Regions from separate parts of the Homo sapiens genome. Here region 1 is linked to region 2. Evidence: fine-mapped expression QTL. A gene starts in region 2. The other region holds a variant in brackets. All regions are shown on one strand. Distances are between the middles of the regions.

What was found. PIP is the estimated chance that this variant, and not a neighbour inherited with it, causes the effect. A credible set is the group of variants that fine-mapping cannot tell apart.
Region 1: its variant is the best candidate, but not a certain one, in a credible set for the expression of FANK1 in testis (GTEx, PIP 0.55).

What each region holds. Positions count from the first base shown.
Region 1 is chr10:126,034,265-126,038,660 of GRCh38, forward strand. ADAM12 (ADAM metallopeptidase domain 12) reads right to left here. Exons shown (of 23, transcript NM_001288973.2): 20 at 3,977-4,085; 21 at 1,882-2,061. Among named protein-coding and RNA genes, the nearest start is that of FANK1-AS1, 63 kb to the left of the region's middle. The variant A/G (reference allele first, on the strand shown) is at 2,282.
Region 2 is chr10:125,893,862-125,898,257 of GRCh38, forward strand. It overlaps FANK1 (fibronectin type III and ankyrin repeat domains 1), which reads left to right and starts at 2,703. Exons shown (of 11, transcript NM_145235.5): 1 at 2,703-2,794. The coding sequence starts at 2,782. It also overlaps a transcript of DHX32 not described here. RefSeq lists silencers at 2,208-2,287, 2,508-2,587, 2,748-2,887, 2,979-3,273.

The DNA.
Region 1 (4,396 bases), 140 kb after region 2:
ACATAATTACACATGTTACTTCCATCTAGTTGATAGAGGCCATGGATGCTGCTAAACATTCTACAATGCATAGGAAAACCCCACATAACAGAGTATTCAGTACAATATGTCAAAATGCTGAGGTTGAGAAACTGCCCTAGTGTAATCATACAAAAAAAATACAAAGATATATACTCAAAAACATAAATGCAGATAAATCAATATGGAATACTAATCTACAGGAACACAGAAAAAGCACAATGAAACAAAAACCAGAGAGAACAAACAGAATAATATTAACATGGTAGACTTAAATCCAAACATATCAACAATTGCATTAAATATGAATGTTCTAAACACACCTATTAAAATATAGTGACTGGCTAAATGGATGAAAAAATCTATATGCTGTCTACAAGAAACGCTTTTCAAATGTAATTCCATAGGTATGTTAAAAGGATGGAAAAATTCATACTTTGCTTTTTATCCTGTTTTTAGAAGTAACCATTTCTGTTTGCTGCAATCATGAATGATGTTTCCTATTGTGAAATATCATTCATGATTGCAAAAAGACAACACTAATACTAATCAAAATAAAACTGGAGTGGATATAATAATATCAGATAAAGTAGATTTTAGAACAAAGATTACCAGAGCTAAACAGAGACATGACATAATGATAAAAGGGTCACTTTACTAAGATGACACAACAATCCTAATTGTGTGTATCGCAAACAACAGAGCTTCAAAATACATGAAGCAAAAACTGATGAACTCAAAGGAGACACAATTATAGTGGAAAAGTCCAACATCTCCTCTTGGTAACTGACAGAACTACTAGACAGCAACAAATTGAGATATTTTGTTGTATTTATCAAACTGGTAAAAGTTAAAATTTAGTGTTAGCAAAGTCATGGTGAGAAAGACAATAACAATGTGGGAACGCAAATGTATATGAGTTCTGAAAAAATATTTTTATATTATGAGGCTTAAAATGGTCATACAATCTTTCAACCCAATATTTTACTTTTAAGAATCTCTCCTAGGGGAATAAAGAGGTCCCAAGATTTACCTCTCTAGAACTTTCTAACAGCAAAAAATGATACATCAATACATGCCCAATAATTTGCAAGTACTTAAACATTTATATTCAAGTATAGTGTTATTATTAAATAGGATTTTTAATGCCATTGTAAATGGGACTAATTTTTAAGGCAAAACAAAGCAGCATATAAAACTGTGTACAAATAAATTATGTTAAAATACACAATTATAAACAAAAAATATTAATAGCAGTGAAAAATTACCAGTGATTATCTCCTACTTATTTGCTTGTTTTCTCCTCCCTTCAAGTTTTCTATTGTGAAATATCATTCGTTATTGCAGCAAACAGAAATGGTTACTTCCAAAAACAGCATAAAAATGAGATGATATACATAAACAATACAGTGCTAAGTTTGGTACGGAGACACTCTGTATATAGGTGGTATAGTTCTTGTAAATAATTTTGAAATAAAATGATGAGAGAGTATAACTGATGCTTCTTAGGGTGACCATCTGTCTTAGATTGCCTGTCTCTATTTTACTGTACAGGCCTAATTATTACTAGTCCCTCTGCTATTCTCAATAGTGTCATCGTTTAGTTGCATGAGTGGTCTAACTATTCAAATACTTAAAAAATTATAACTAGTAAATTAAAATATATGACACTCTTATTATTATACTCCAGGCACCAAACTAACTGCTTTATGTGGATTATCTCATTTAACCATCTGAGTAGCTGAATTATCTCCATTTTACAGAGGCACCGAGAAGTTAAGCAACTTATCTAAGCTCACACATTAACAAGTAGCAGAATCTGGATTTGAACTACATCCTATCATATTAGTACTGAAAGCATACCTGGGCCTGCCTAAGTGCAGGCTTGGCTGGCAGGGGTCTGGCAGGGACGCTAGGTGCACGTGGAGCCCGGTGGAGGGGAGGAAGCACTCGCTGAGTTGACTGGGGCTGAGGGACATTCAGGCCGTTGAGGGGTCTGCTGATGTCAACATTCTGACACTGCAGCAATCTCCTGGGATTGTCCTGTACAGTCAAAGTAAAAAGCCATGCTATAGCGGGTTTCAAAAATATCAGTAACTCCTTAAGGAAAAAGCAGTGCTAACTCATCTGTTATAGCTGAAGGCCAAGGTGGGGTAAAGGAAAGAAATCAAGGATGTACACAAGAGGGGAATTATTTTTGTATTTATTTAAACTTCAAAATTCAAACAGAAGCATCACCTGCCTCCACCCCACCAAATCTGGA[A/G]TAGAAGGATCGATTTTTGTTTAGATTTTAAAAAACTGTTTAACAAATAGGTGCAAAGCACTTGAAAAAGTACCAAGTATAAAGAAAGACACGGACCGAGATCTTAGGGAAGTTACAAAAGAGATGTGAAAATAAGATACAGCTTAATGTGTTCAAGGCTCAATGAGAACTGAGAAAACCACTGGGGAAAGGAGAGTTGCGGCTTCAGGAAGCCAGGGCTGAGGTTGGGGCTTGGAGTTGGAGACGTTCTCCCATATGGTAACCCTTGTTCTTAGAACAGGTGCTGCAGGGACCCTTATACCTCAGGCTTCTACCCCTTCCTTCCTCTCTTTCTAAAAACAGCTTAATTGAGGTATAGTTGACATAAAGTATACAACTTGGTCATTTTTTGACGTGTTTACACCCATGAAACCCTCACAACAAACAAGTGGACAAATGAATGCATCCATCACCCCAAAGAGTTTTCTTGTCATGCTTCTCCCTTCCCTCTCCCTCCAATCATCAGTCTGCTTTCTGTCACTATCAGTTTGCATTTGTCAGAATTGTATATAAGTGGGATCACAGAGTATATACTCTGGCTTTTCTTCTTTTACTCAGAATAATTATCTAGAGATTCATCCTCAATGTTGTATACATCAATGGTTCATTCCATTGTGCAAATATACCATTGTTTATCCTTTTACTGGTTGATGGATATTTGGATTGTTTCTAGTTTGGGGCTCTCAAAAATAAGGCTGTGCTTTTTTTTTTTTTTTAATAGAGCTGCATTTTTCTTTTTTACGAAAATGAAGATGTGCTTTTGGCTACCACACAAAGCCGTTCTCGCTTATGGTTCCACCTTTGGGGACGAGCAGGGGTAAAGCTTATTGGGAATGGCAGCCTCCTCCTTGGAGCCCCACCCTTTGCGTTTTTTGGATCAAGGGAGTTAAAACAGTTTATTGCCTACTGCATATGCAGCAATGATTTTTCAATCACTTATTTTTTTTGACACCAATCTTGTTCACTGTTATAATTTGGACTCTTGTTGACTAAGTTCAATATTCAAGAATTCTTGTGGGTACATCAGAAAAACTCGGTGGGGAAGAACTATTAGAATGAACTCTAGCTGTAATTCACCAGGGTAGCAAGAGGGTTAAGAGACAGCAGGGAGCCGTGAGGTACTCTGGGTTAAGGATCCAGTTCTCTGAAACCACAGGGTGGACAGGGCTTCCTCAGCTCAGGGCTGGAGCAAAATGGTCAATTCTGAGAGCTCCATGTAACTTTTGAAAAATATTTTAAGAGTAACAGTGGGCTAAAGCAGCTCACCTAAAGCCAGGTGGTGGCATTTGGAAACCATGGTGGGGCTGGCATTGGGGGCTGGTGTCAGGAGCCAGCTCGGGCTGCAGACCCAGTGGGGCCCCAGAAATGTGGCTGGTCTGGGTGACTGAAGGGATCACAGCTCACACTATGCTGCACCATATCATGCAGGGGGCACTGAGTGCGCCAACAGGATCTAGGTGGGCTTCCATGGGGGCACCGTGGGGCCTCCCTCTGGCCCCAGATCACAGAGACCCTCCCTCAGAGCCTGCTGACCTAGTGAGGCTGACTCAGCATTTCACAGGCAGCGCCTCTAGGATCCCATTCTTATTCAGTCTCGTATTGAAAACCTCATGTCTGCATGTGTGCCCTGAGCACTCACATCTACTCAAGACTCACCTTCGGTGGGTAGGAATCTGGCGGCTTCCTCATCAGGCCTTTTCCAAGGTGGCCGAGGTGAGCCTGACAGGGTTGGAAGCCACGGGGTGGCCGGGAAGGGCGCACACACCTGCAACAGAATCCCATACCTGCTGACCAAGCGTGTTTCCCCTTCTCACTGACTTGACTTTTTACACTTTGCTCATAGTGGCACTCAAAAGACAGTTTACTTAACTCAGTGTGCTAAACATGCAAAGGAAAAATTACCTAATAACACTCTTAGGAGATTAAAAAATAAATACTGGTTTTTCCCTCAAAACCTCTATTTTGTCAAATTAGTTCTCACGCTCCATAGAAATGCAGTGTAGTGACACCTGGAAGATGATTTGTATGAAGCTGGCATTTCAGCGATAATGTCTTTGAATATATTTGGATCAAAAG
Region 2 (4,396 bases):
ACATTTTTTATCAACCTATTTGCATTAAATAATGTTAACCTCCCACTAAAGTTATTTCTACTTTGAATTCTGAGGTAGTCAAGAGATTTAAATAAGAAAAAGACTACATCTGTCTCTTCATTGTTACTTTGTTATTCCCGATCCATAATGCTTCAGTTTGCTACATTTAGTTAAACATCAGCAAAGTAAACAATAATGTAACTATTCTATCTAGTAATGAGCTTGGAGACTTAAAAAAATATATATAGAACTTTATTCCTTTTCATTTGACCACTAATAACATACTGAACATGCCCGTGAAAAGAAATAAAACACAATGGTAGAAAACTCCAAAAAGGTAGAGTGTCTTTACCATTCATCCCCCACCCCTATCTCATTAGCAACTTTCTGATCTCGGGTGTTTTCTCCAATAGTAAAGTGTATCCCTATATCCAAAACAATTTCTCTAAAGCCCTTCTCACTCATTCAACAAACATTTAACAGGTACATTGCACAAGGTGATAGAGGAAGAGAAACTGAATATTGTCCCTGCCTCGGACATTTCAGTGCCTTTACGCCTGACTTCCACTCCTAACCAGTCTTCTTTCACAGGTACCCTGTCCCCTAAAATCAAATGTTGCTTTTCACAGTTGCCTTTACTTGTCACCTAAAGTATTTCAATTCAAAATTTCCTCAAAGTCAACTTAACAGCTGCTGATAAAATAATCATTCTATATGATTACAAAGTGTTTCACCAATACATATCCCCATTTTTTCCAAACTTAAAACTTCTTCAGTCCTTATTACTTTAGCATAGAGACCTGCACTGTTGTTTCTTCTTTTTAAAAAAATACTAATGCTAATCCTTTACTGTTTGAGCAGACTTAATCCTACCTTTTCTTTTGTCAATAAATGCCAGGTGTTTTTTAAATCACTATCTTGTCACTTTTGATTATGATATACTGATCACTCTATTTGTATCTTGAATGAAAAGACCGCTTTGTGATTTTGCTAATGATATGTAAACTAGAACTTGAGAACCACTGGATACAGGAGTACTGCTGATCTTTATACTTTCTGTCTAAAAATGAAGCCCCTGTCTCTAAATTTCAGGAACAGGGAGTTAAGGTTCCATGAAGTGTTTACTTTCCACCCTTAATTTATTACCTTAATACTTCAGCTTAAGAATTATGTGTTCTGTATATATCACGCTGCTTGTCAATATCCACACATAAACCTTCTTGTTTTGACAATTAATCTGAAAAAGTCCCCATATAGTCTGAGAGGGGGAAAACCTAATTTGGAAGAATATAATAAATGTCAGTTTCCATCACAGAATATATGCTTCTCAAGTTCAATTAACCTCTCAATGATTCCCTAAGAGGAAAGTAATTCTCCTTAGTGTCCTTGTCATCCATGGAGTGGAAATCTTTCTACTGGCAAGATTAGTAATCACTTCCATGACCCCCAAAACGGCTCTTCCTTCCATTTCCCTCAAGTACTGTCTGGAGCAGCGGTTGGAATTAATAGAGGGGCCATAATCTCCAGACCTGAATACCAAATCAATCCTGCAGCCCCCCACACCCTTAATGCCCCTGCACTTTCTTGCTTATCCTTTTTCTCTCGTCTCCATTTTTCTTTCCTCCTTCTGGTGTTCCGGAACCTATGATACTCTCCTGGTTGTTTGAATTTTTACAACCTACCAGATAATAATCTCTTGTGATCCTCAAAGCTTCCTTAAAGCAAACCCTGAATCACTGTGTTTTAAAACCAGTATGAAAGACTATTGTGTGGGATAATGTTACATTGTTTCACAGCCCTACAAAGTTTGGCCACAAAACGTGTGGGCAGATTCCGTAACTCAACCGGAAACGCGAAGGACTGAAACAAATCAACACACAAAAAACGAAGCCAGCGAGAAAGATCCAACCCGGGCCCCCTGCCTGAAATGGGACACGGGGATGACGGGGCAAAGCCGGGCAAAACCGTGCTCCTGGCTCTCGCGATTCAGGAGACGCGCCAGGCTCACTGGGGACGACAGCGACGACGGCGGCGGCTCGCATTGCTCCACGCTTCCCGTCAGGGGGGCTCGAGGGACCGCCCCAGGCCCGGCCCATGCCCGGGCTCGGAGGGAGCCCCTGGTGCGAGGGCTGCCCGCAGGGCTCCGTCCTCCCGCTGAGGCGCGGCTCCCGGAGCAGGAGGCGCGGAGGCCGCCCTCGGCGTTTCGGAGTCGGGGCGGGGAACGTCCACGGCCAACTGCGGGCAGGGGACCCCCAGGCGGCTACAACAGGTGCGCCGGGGCCGCCCACCCGGCTCGGGGCGCGCCCGCCCCTGCGCCGACCCCCGACCCCTTCCGCCGCCGGGGCCCCGCTGTTACCTGCAGCGGCGGCTCCCGATTCCCGGGAGGGCGGCCCAGGGCCGGCGCCTTACCCGCGGGCAGGCCCACTCGCCCGACGGACGCCGCGGGTCGGCGACAGCGGGGACCGCGGGTCGGCGACGTCGGGGCACAGGTCCTGCGGGGCCGCGGGGGCCGCCAGGGAGGGCGCGACCGCCTGACCGGGCTTCAGGAGCAGTGTCCTCAGCCGGTGACCTGGCCGCTACCCTCGCTCAGTGTCCCCGGCGACGCGCGGGTCCTCACGCGCTCCCTCACTTCCTGCGGCTTTTGGTCCCTCCCGCTCGCCGTCCCTTTAGTTCTGCCCACTTCGCCTCCGGGTTGTCAGGGCAACCGTAGCGACGCCGGCCCTGGCTGAGAGGCGTTAGGAGTCCGGGGGTTCGCCCGCGGAGGCCGGGGAGCAGCCGACCATGGAGCCCCAGAGTAAGGGAGGCCCGGGCTGGAGCTGGGACCGGGGCGGGCGACCGGGCTGGGGCTCCCCGGGAACGAGTGTGGGCGCCCCGCGCGCGACTCCGCAGGTTTCAACGCTCGGACACGGAAATACGGTTTGCGTCTCCTCGCGCTTTTCTCTCCTGGAGAGGGGAGAAGGGGGCTACATCCTGCCAAGTCTGTATGGTTGGGCCGCCGGCGCCCTAGAGTCCGCGCTGGGGGCTGGGAGCGACTGGAGAGCCCCGAGGTATGGGTGGGGAAGGGCGCAGCGACCCCAGCGTGCGTCTTCCTGAAACTTCGCCCGGACGGTTCCATTTACTCCTCCTCCTACTCATGATTTTAGTTTGGTAGTTTGGTTCATTAATTGTAAGTAGCCCATTTTTCTTCTAAAATGTCAGCAATTAAACACGTCCGAGGCTGGGTCTTGTATTTATTAGAGACCCCGTCTTACTCCCCGCCCCCCGCCCCACACCCCTAGTCTGCGACTTGAAGGAGAGAGAGAGAAAAGAAGAGCTTTGTCCAAGTGTATTTGATTCATTCTTAGGGGTTCTACAAGTTAGGACACTCAAAAAATGTTTGTAATCTCTTTTTCTGTTTTCCCATGTTGCTTTCGATGTATGGCAAAAGTTGTGCAGTTTTGAGTTATCAGATCTAAACACGAGCTCTAACTTACTATTTTTGTTGTTGTTTTTACCTTTCCAGGGACTTTGTTTCAAGGCCTTTCTTTCTCTGCCCCGCCTAAGCTGTCTTATTGTTCCTTTTGTTCTCAAAATAAGGGGAGTGTTTTGTATGGAGACTTAAAATTTATCTAAAACCTTTATAGAAGGATGCAGTTTGACTCTCAAACCAAGTCGTCTTATCTTGTACAATTTCAGAAATGAAGAACTCAGACCAAATCTATTCTCTGGGGAAAATGTTGGCATTTTTAAAGGTCATTCGTTTTCCACCAAGAAAGTTTCAAATACTTTTCCTTTTAACTCATTTGCTGAGGAGAAAGCTTGCAAGTTGTGACTTATAGTTGCTTGATAGATTTTGTACAGTATTTGTCATTTGCATTTACAGCTCTTTGGATTCTACATTTTTTTAACCTAGTAAAAGAAATTTAGCATACAAGAACGCTAAAATTTTTGTTTTATGTCAAACTGATGGCAGGCTGTGTATATTCCCGCCTTAGAGAAGTGAGTTGAAATATACCTTTTAAAAACAGCAACTTGGCCTGGCCCGGTGGCTCACGCCTGTAATCCCAGCACTTTGGGAGGCTGAGGCAGGCGGATCACGAGGTCAGGAGATTGAGACCATCTTGGCCAGCATAGTGAAACCCATCTCTACTAAAATACAAAAAAAAAAAAAAAAAAAAAAAAAAAAAAAAAAAAGCCAGGTGTGGTGGCGCGTGCCTGGAGTCCTAGCTATTTGGGACGCTGAGGCCGAGGCAGGGGAATCGCTTGAACCCGGGAGGCGGAGGTTGCAGTGAGGCCAGATTGCACCGCTGCACTCCAGCCTGGTGACAGAGCGAGACTCCATCTCGAAAAAACAAAAAAAAGAACTTTATTTCTTCAGATTTATGTTACTGTTTTCATGTGTAAACTATAATTTCAA